2 separate regions of the Homo sapiens genome follow, and region 1 is reported to be linked to region 2. Evidence: microRNA targets listed by miRTarBase, many of them from high-throughput screens and not tested one by one. Region 2 holds a microRNA gene; the other region holds the end of a gene's coding sequence.
The links. The annotated mature microRNA hsa-miR-3189-3p reads CCCUUGGGUCUGAUGGGGUAG and lies in region 2 at 1,505-1,525, shown strand. An mRNA with a match to its seed (bases 2 to 7 or 8) in the 3' UTR can be bound and repressed. Matches are read on the target gene's strand: a 7mer-m8 pairs with bases 2 to 8, a 7mer-A1 pairs with bases 2 to 7 and ends in A, and an 8mer does both.

Region 1 (4,384 bases), not on the chromosome of region 2:
TATGGGAACACCCCTTGAGAGGTGATCTTTCCTGGGGAGAAAGACCCTTCCTGGAGTGTGGGGTGGGTGTTCCTTGGGGTGGGTCTTGTGGGGGGTCTCCTTTCCCAGAGCCTGGGGATTTTCAGGAGCAGATCTCCCTAGAGATGGGCCAAGTGCCCTCAGCCACCCCTCTCTGCTGCGTTCCACTCTGGACTCAGCTGACCAAGCTCTCCATCCTTGTCCCCACTCTCTCTCATCCCCAGGTATAACGAGGAGGAGAAGAAATGGGAGGGTGTCCTGCGGGAGATCGCCTATGCAGCAGGTGCCACCTTCCTACCAGTGCGGCTCAATGTGCTGTGCCTGACTAAGATGTGACCAGCTCAGGCAGACTGAACTAAGCACCCCTCCCATCCTGCGACCCTCACTGGCCTGGCCTTGTGGGGGCTCCAGAAAAGAGGCTAGGAGAGGCCAGAGTCTACCTGGATCCAGTTATGGTGCCTCAGGGGCTGCGTCAGCCAAGGAAAGGGAAGTGCTGCTTAGTCCTGGACTTTTGGGCAAGGGTGAGAAACTAGAGGCTTCTCCAGTGTTGCCATATCCCCCTAGGTTGTCTTGATCCATGAACCAGAACCACAGGGCGGTATCCCAGGCCGTGTGCTGGCCCTGCCCCAGCCTAGCTGAGTGTGCTGGCAAAGTTCCCCACAGGACTCAGCCTTCTCGTCTGTCCGATGGGAGCATCCCCATCAAGTGCAGTGTACAGTGCAGATATGTCTCCTTCTTTAGGAAGAATAAAGTGCCTTCTGAGCAAGCAGCTCAGGGTCTGCATCAGTGCTCCAAGAGTCAGTGAGCAGGTGTGTTGAAGACTTGGGGCTTCAGTGTTCTGCTGTTGGGCTGCCAAGGTCGATGGTCTCTGCTCTCCATCTGGTGTCCCCTCCACCCTATGGGTGGGAACCCTCCCCTGCCTGAGGCCTAGAGCCTCCAGCTCCTCAGCCACTATGGACGTGGAGCCAGGGGACTGTGGGAAGAAGGGTCAGGGAACAGCCAAGCTGTTGTAGAAAAGTCTTTTATTCTATCGGTCAGGCCCCATCTGGCCCAAGAATAGCTGAGCAGAGCCCATCCCTCTACCCGCTCCCTCCTACTCCGGCTTCTCTTTGTCCTGCTTCTGCTCCTCCTCCAGTGCCAAGGTTCGCTCACGCTCCTTTACCAGCTGGACGCCACAGTAGGTGACAAACAGGATGGACAGCGTGGTCTGGGGGAACCCTGTGTGGGGAGGGAGTCATAGATGCTCAGGAGCAGCACTGCATCCTCAGCGACTTTTGTCTTCCCACCCCTCTCCCCGCTTGATGGGCCCTCCCTTCTGAGTCCCAGGGGTGATGAGGGAGATAGGAGGCATTTTGGAAGGTCACGGTCCTTGAGGCTGATGCCTGGCACCTTCTGTATCCCCACACCCCTGTCCCTCACCTGTGAGTAGCAGGCGCCGGGCAACCAGCTCTGTGAATTTGAGGCTGTTCAGGCTCACAAGGTTGTACATGATGATGGCCCAGAAGTTCATGGCTCCAAACAGGGCCCGGACCCTACGGGACATCTGCACTGACAGAGAGGCCTATCCGGTCCAGGAAAGCATGGGCAGCGGGACAAGAGGCCAAAGGAAAGAGGACATGGTGGGTCAGCAGCCTTACCCACCTGGCCAGTCAGGTCTTGGGGCTATGTCTGGGTCTCGGAGAGCCCCAGGTCAGCTCTCCCTCCTTGTTAAACATGGGGAAACAGGTCCAGAGAGAGGACAAGGCCTGACCAACATGGCAAGGCCCAGGTGCTCCATTCCTCATAGAAGGGAGGGAGGGGCAGATTCCTACAGAGTGAGCCATTGCTCTGACAACTAAGAGGGTGGTGGTGAGAAAGTTCTGGATTAGGGGCCAGGTGTTTGGACAACTCCAGAAAGCAGCAGTGCCCCCCCGCCCTCTATGACCCAGCCAGTCCCAGCCCCAGGTCTTCCCTGCTCACCTCAATTCGTGCTAGGGGCCCCCACTCTGCCAGTTTTTGCATCCAGAGCTCAAAGTTGAGGCCAAAGCAGTTAAGGAATGACCACAGGTAGACAATGTCACAAGGCCCAAGCCACAGTGTGGTGATGGCAAATGTGGCCACTGTGGCTGCCAGCTCTGGGATCACAGCGGAATGCTCCCCACCAATGTGGTTATACACATATCTGCAGGAAAGATGGGAGAAGGGCCACTGGGAGTGTGGGAAAGGGCAGGGATGAGATGGGAGAGGACACACAACAGGGCGTCCTCCTCAACACTGTCACCCTGGGTGCATTCAACATTCCTGACCTCACGTAGCAGCTCCTCCTCCAACCAACTTCAAATTGTGGCAGGCTCAGCCTGGGACATTATAGCTTCTCTATCTCTGTTCGTTTACTTCCCAAATGATCTCATCCAGACCCAAGATTTCAAGTACTAGCTCTATGACGATGACCCCTAAATCTGTGTCTTTAGCCCAGTCTCTCCTGATTTGTATATGCAATTGCTACTAGCCATGTCACTTGATTGACAGATTCCCCTATCCCTGCTCAAACCCAGCTCCGTCCTCATCTCAGTGAATGGCACCACCATCCATTCAGTTGCTCAGGGTATAAGCCTTGGTGCCATCTTGGATTCTCAGTTTGCCTCATCACCCACATCCAAGCAAGCCAGCAAATTCTGTTGGCTCCTCTCAGTCCTGACCACCACTCACCTCCTCTACCACCACCACCCTAGTCAAGATGATCACTCTTCTCACATAAATTATTGCAAGAGCCTCTTAAGTGGTCTTCTTGTTTCTGCTTTTGCCCCCATGGTTCATTCTCCACACAGCAGCCAGAGGCATCTTTTAAGAGTGTAGCTCAGGTCACATCACTTCCATGATTAACCTCTCTGAATAGCTCCCCATTACAATAGGAATAAACTCAGTCTCTTTACTCTGGCTAGAAGATCCCAAGTGGTCTGGTTTCTGTTCCCTTCCTGACCAAATCAGCCACCATGCTCCCCCAGTTCATCATGCTGGCCTCACTGGCCTTTCTTACCTTTACACCCACACAGTTGGTTTGTGTCTCAAGGCCTTTGCCCTTGTTGTTCCCTCTACCTGGTATTCTCTGCTCCACATCTCCTTATCACTCAAATCTCAATTCAAATATCATCTCCTCAGAGAAGCCTGCCTAGACCCCGACTAAAGAAGCTTCTACCCTGTTGTCAACTTCTATCCCATTGCAATTTTATTTTCTTCATAACACTTACCACTCTCTAAAATTATCTTATTTATGTTTGTTTACCTGTTTATGGTCTGTTTCTCCCCACTAGACTGTAAGCTCCATGAGTTCAGGGTCTTTGCCATGTTCACTGCTGTATCCCCAGTGCCTAGAACAATGCCTGGCACATAGGTGCTCAATAAATATTTGTTAAATAAGTTCTGTGGAAGACCCAGGAATAACCAGCCTCTCCATTCCTCGACCTCCTCATTTCCAATGGCTTTTTCTCCACTCCACCTCAGCCACCCACACCCATGGCCATGCCCCAACTTTGTCACCACTTGAAAGTTCACTCCTTTCTAATTCCCATTCTTTGCCCAACTCCTCTTGACCTCCTGGCCCCCCAGCTTCAGTTCTTCAATCCCATTGATCTTGTGACCCTCCCACCTTCACCACCGTCCTTAGCAGGCTTATATCCAATGAGTCATGACTATAAATAATCTAAAAACCCTTATTCCTGACTTCTTCCTTGTCATCCATCTGGGAGAGCCCAATCACTTACTTTCTCCTCAGCTACACCCAGGCAGCTAAGCCCCATGGGGGAAATCTCACATCTTCACATGCTGGAGTTCATAAGCCCACCACCTCCAATACCACCTGGGTACTCAGTGCCAAGATTTCTCTAGTCAGCTGCTTCTCCCTTGCTCTGCAAGGGCCACTGTATTCTTATCTCCCCACAAGTATGAGTGGAGAGATAGTATGAGTGGGGGGATCCAGGCTGGGTTGTGGGGGTAAGCATATATGTTGCCTCTCTCCACGTCCCTGTCCTGGCTTTCTCAGCTGATGGCCGTGCCTCCTGCTTCATGGACAAGGCTGAAGCCTTCAGGTGGAATCCCTTACTTGTCTACATTAACCTGCTTTCCTCTGCATCCACACTGGCTTCTCTTCCTCCTCCTCCCACTGAAGCCAGGCCTCCGCCTGGAACTAGACACCCTCACCTCCTTCCTCTTCAGGGACCTCACTCCATCAATCACCCCTGTATCCTGCATCCCCAGCTTCTCTGTTGAATAATTCTTCTTAGCATGTCCCATTCTCTCCTATCTTTAACACATCCCTCTTCTCCCTCAGCCACTCCTGTCTTCCCCCTGCAGTCCCAGGCTTCTTCCAGGAGTCATCACACACTTCTCT
Region 2 (4,384 bases):
TGGGATTACAGGCATGTAATCCCACCACCAAGCCCAGCTAATTTTGTATATTTAGTAGAGACAGGGTTTCTCCATGTTGGTCAGGCTAGTCTAGAACTCTTGACGTCAGATGATCCACGTGCCTCGGCCTCCCAAAGTGCTGGGATTACAGGCGAGAGCCACCGTGCCCGGCGCAGAATTCTTTTTTTTAGAGATGAGGTATTGCCATCTTGCCCAGACTTGTCTCGAACTCCTGGGCTCAAACAATCCACCCACCTCGGCCTCCCAAAGTGCTGAGATTACTGACATAAGCCACCATGCCTGGCCCCCAGAATTATGAATCCTGTGAGGATGGCTTCAAGGTGAGCGCTGAGCCAGACAAAAGGATGGGGTTTGGGAGCACCCTGCTTAGACTGGAAAGATAATGTTGGAGAAGACTTCCTGGAAGAGGGGCTTTTTGCGTAGAGTTTTGAAGAATGAGTAGGAGTTCTCCAGAGGAGGATGAGTAACTGCAATAACACCCAGTTTATCAAGTGCCTCCTATGTGTCTGGCCCTGTGCTTTACCCCTCATTTGACCACCTCTCCAGTGAGAGTCTCAGTCCTTTTTTTCCTGGTGAGGAAACAGGCATGGCAGAGAGGCATGACACATCAAGGTTGCCCTTCCTGGCTCCATCTAGCCCGTTCTCCTCTGCTTCCTTTGTTTTTCACCATCTTTAGCCTTTGACCCCAACCAAAAAGAGAAGAGAGGAAATCCCATGGGCATAGACAGCCACCTCTTAAACTCTTGTCTGGAATTTTTCACATAGTAACAATGTCTTTTTTTCCTCCAAAAAGACTCCCAGGCTGGAATGGTGTCCTCATATCGAGGAAGAGGATACTGAGGCCCAGAAATGTGCCCTAGCTTTACTAGGAGCGCCCCCACCTAAAGATCCTCCCCCTAAATACACCCCCAGACCCCGCCCAGCTGTGGTCATTGGAGTGTTTACTCTGCAGGCAGGGGGAGGAGGGCGGGACTGAGCAGGCGGAGACGGACAAAGTCCGGGGACTATAAAGGCCGGTCCGGCAGCATCTGGTCAGTCCCAGCTCAGAGCCGCAACCTGCACAGCCATGCCCGGGCAAGAACTCAGGACGGTGAATGGCTCTCAGATGCTCCTGGTGTTGCTGGTGCTCTCGTGGCTGCCGCATGGGGGCGCCCTGTCTCTGGCCGAGGCGAGCCGCGCAAGTTTCCCGGGACCCTCAGAGTTGCACTCCGAAGACTCCAGATTCCGAGAGTTGCGGAAACGCTACGAGGACCTGCTAACCAGGCTGCGGGCCAACCAGAGCTGGGAAGATTCGAACACCGACCTCGTCCCGGCCCCTGCAGTCCGGATACTCACGCCAGAAGGTAAGTGAAATCTTAGAGATCCCCTCCCACCCCCCAAGCAGCCCCCATATCTAATCAGGGATTCCTCATCTTGAAAAGCCCAGACCTACCTTTGAGCCTCAGTTGCCCCATCTGTGCCCTGGGTAGGAATATCCTGGATCCCCTTGGGTCTGATGGGGTAGCCGATGCCTGATTTGCACCCACAACGTGGGAGGTTATAACCTGTCCCCAAGTTGCAAATGGGGAAACTGAGGTACAGGGATGCCAGGGACCCTCCTGAATGTGCACAGCACCTGGGAAACCCGGGGACGGGGTCGGGCGTGCGGTGTGGGCATGGTCCCTGACCTGGGCTGGGGCCAGGATCCAAGAGAAACAATGGGGGTGTGGTGCATGGATAGAAGTTTGTGATGGGCAGAGCCAGCTGGAGCTGGTTCTGAATCTGATGAAATCGCTTGTCAAGGCACTGCTAAAGTCACATGCAACGAGCGACTTGTTAGGGGAGGAGGAGAGTATTTTCCCCATCTCTGTGCCCTCCATGGAGGCTCCAGGGGTGCAGGGCACTGGATGAGGTCTGGGCTGTGGTGGGACCCAGGAGGGGGCAGGCAGAGGGGCACACTCTTAGCCCGCCCTAAACCCATCTGTGCCGTGTGACTCCGGCAAACCTCTCACCCTTGCTAAGCCTAGCAACTAGGTTAAGGCACCCTCAAACCCCAGTCTCCCCAGTCTCCCTAACACTTGTACCAGCCTGAGGGGCTGTGATTCCTAGAGGCTCAGTAGTCTGGAATGTGATGGGTTTGGCACTCTTCATTTCTCGGGATTACACCTGTAATCCCAGCACTTTAGGAGGCCAAGGTGGGAGCATCGCTTTAGGCCAGAACATTGCAGCCTGGGCAGTATAGCGAGAATCCATCTCTACCAAAAATGTTTAAAAAAAATTAGCCAGACATGATGGTGTGTGCCTGTAGTCTCAGTTATTCAGGAGGCTGAGGCGGGAGGAGCACTTGAATCCAGGAGATTGAGGCTGCACTGAGCCATGAGTGCCCCACTGCACTCCAGCCTGGGTAACAGCAAGACCATAATAAATAAATAAATAAGTGAAGCAAGTAAGTTTTTGACTGCCAGAAGAAAAGCAGAGCCATGGTTGGAATCTCAGGCTGCCTGAATATCAGATATACATTAATTCCTTCAAGTATTTACTAAGCACCTATTGTGTGCCAGGCACAGTGTCAACCAAGCTAAGATTCTAAGTAGGGAATATGAATGATACACAAGGAAATAAAATAGGGTGCTTCCTATTTTAGGCAGGCTGGAAGGAAGAGGAGGAGCCAGCCATACTGAGATTCAGGAGATTCAAGGGGAGAAATGCCCTTTTTTTTTTTTTTTTTTTTTTTTTTGAGAGGGAGTCTTCCTCTGTTGCCCAGGCTGGAGTGCAGTGGCACGATCTTGGCTCACTGCAACCTCCACCGCCCCGATTCAAGCCATTCTTCTGCCTCAGCCTCCCGAGTAGCTGGGATCACAGGCGCCAGCCACCATGCCCAGCTAATTTTTGGTATTTTTAGTAGAAGCGGGCGTTTCACCATATTGGCCACATATCGGCCAGGCTGGTCTTGAACTCCTGACCTCAAGTGATCCACCTGCATCGGCCTCCCAAAGTGCTGGGATTACAGGCGTGAGCCACCGCGCCCGCACGGAGAAATGCTCTTGGTAGGGGAAATAACTTGTGCAAAGGCGCCGCCGCCGTGGTGAGATCCAGCTTGGCGTGTTAGGGGAAATGGGCACCCTCGTTCCTGGAAAACGGTAGGCCTGTGGGTGACCAGCTTCCCTATCTGTCTTCCCACAGTGCGGCTGGGATCCGGCGGCCACCTGCACCTGCGTATCTCTCGGGCCGCCCTTCCCGAGGGGCTCCCCGAGGCCTCCCGCCTTCACCGGGCTCTGTTCCGGCTGTCCCCGACGGCGTCAAGGTCGTGGGACGTGACACGACCGCTGCGGCGTCAGCTCAGCCTTGCAAGACCCCAGGCGCCCGCGCTGCACCTGCGACTGTCGCCGCCGCCGTCGCAGTCGGACCAACTGCTGGCAGAATCTTCGTCCGCACGGCCCCAGCTGGAGTTGCACTTGCGGCCGCAAGCCGCCAGGGGGCGCCGCAGAGCGCGTGCGCGCAACGGGGACCACTGTCCGCTCGGGCCCGGGCGTTGCTGCCGTCTGCACACGGTCCGCGCGTCGCTGGAAGACCTGGGCTGGGCCGATTGGGTGCTGTCGCCACGGGAGGTGCAAGTGACCATGTGCATCGGCGCGTGCCCGAGCCAGTTCCGGGCGGCAAACATGCACGCGCAGATCAAGACGAGCCTGCACCGCCTGAAGCCCGACACGGTGCCAGCGCCCTGCTGCGTGCCCGCCAGCTACAATCCCATGGTGCTCATTCAAAAGACCGACACCGGGGTGTCGCTCCAGACCTATGATGACTTGTTAGCCAAAGACTGCCACTGCATATGAGCAGTCCTGGTCCTTCCACTGTGCACCTGCGCGGAGGACGCGACCTCAGTTGTCCTGCCCTGTGGAATGGGCTCAAGGTTCCTGAGACACCCGATTCCTGCCCAAACAGCTGTATTTATATAAGTCTGTTATTTATTATTAATTTATTGGGGTGACCTTCTTGGGGACTCGGGGGCTGGTCTGATGGAACTGTGTATTTATTTAAAACTCTGGTGATAAAAATAAAGCTGTCTGAACTGTTCCCTGTGGTGTCCAGGATAAGGGAAGGTGACCTTGAGAAGATCCTCCTCTCCCTGACCTCAGTTTCTCTAGGAGACCTGGGAGGGGGTAAGTGGAAAGGCTCAAGGAATGAGTGGCAAGGTGTTCTCGGAGATGCCAAGCCATTGGAAGGTGCTTACGACACCTGTGGGCTCTAAGGGCAGCCTTGGCCATTCCTGACTCCCTGACTCTCTGTCTCTATTTCTCTATCTCCTTATTGCTGTTTCTTTTTTCTTTTTATTTTTTTTAGACGGGGTCTCACTCTGTTGCCCAGGCCGAAGTGCAGTGGCACA

Region 1: the mRNA of KLHL40 is a reported target of hsa-miR-3189-3p. Seed matches in the 3' UTR shown: 7mer-A1 at 495-501.

The regions. Positions count from the first base shown.
Region 1 is chr3:42,691,640-42,696,023 of GRCh38, forward strand. KLHL40 (kelch like family member 40) reads left to right here. Exons shown (of 6, transcript NM_152393.4): 6 at 243-905. The coding sequence ends at 354. It overlaps HHATL (hedgehog acyltransferase like), which reads right to left. Exons shown (of 12, transcript NM_020707.4): 10 at 1,978-2,179; 11 at 1,438-1,579; 12 at 1,024-1,236. The coding sequence ends at 1,112. Among named protein-coding and RNA genes, the nearest start is that of KLHL40, 8.3 kb to the left of the region's middle.
Region 2 is chr19:18,385,103-18,389,486 of GRCh38, forward strand. It overlaps MIR3189 (microRNA 3189), which reads left to right and starts at 1,460; the gene lies at 1,460-1,532. GDF15 (growth differentiation factor 15) reads left to right here and starts at 1,056. Exons shown (of 2, transcript NM_004864.4): 1 at 1,056-1,364; 2 at 3,184-4,074. The coding sequence starts at 1,088. The coding sequence ends at 3,833. RefSeq lists enhancers at 600-1,422, 1,011-1,180.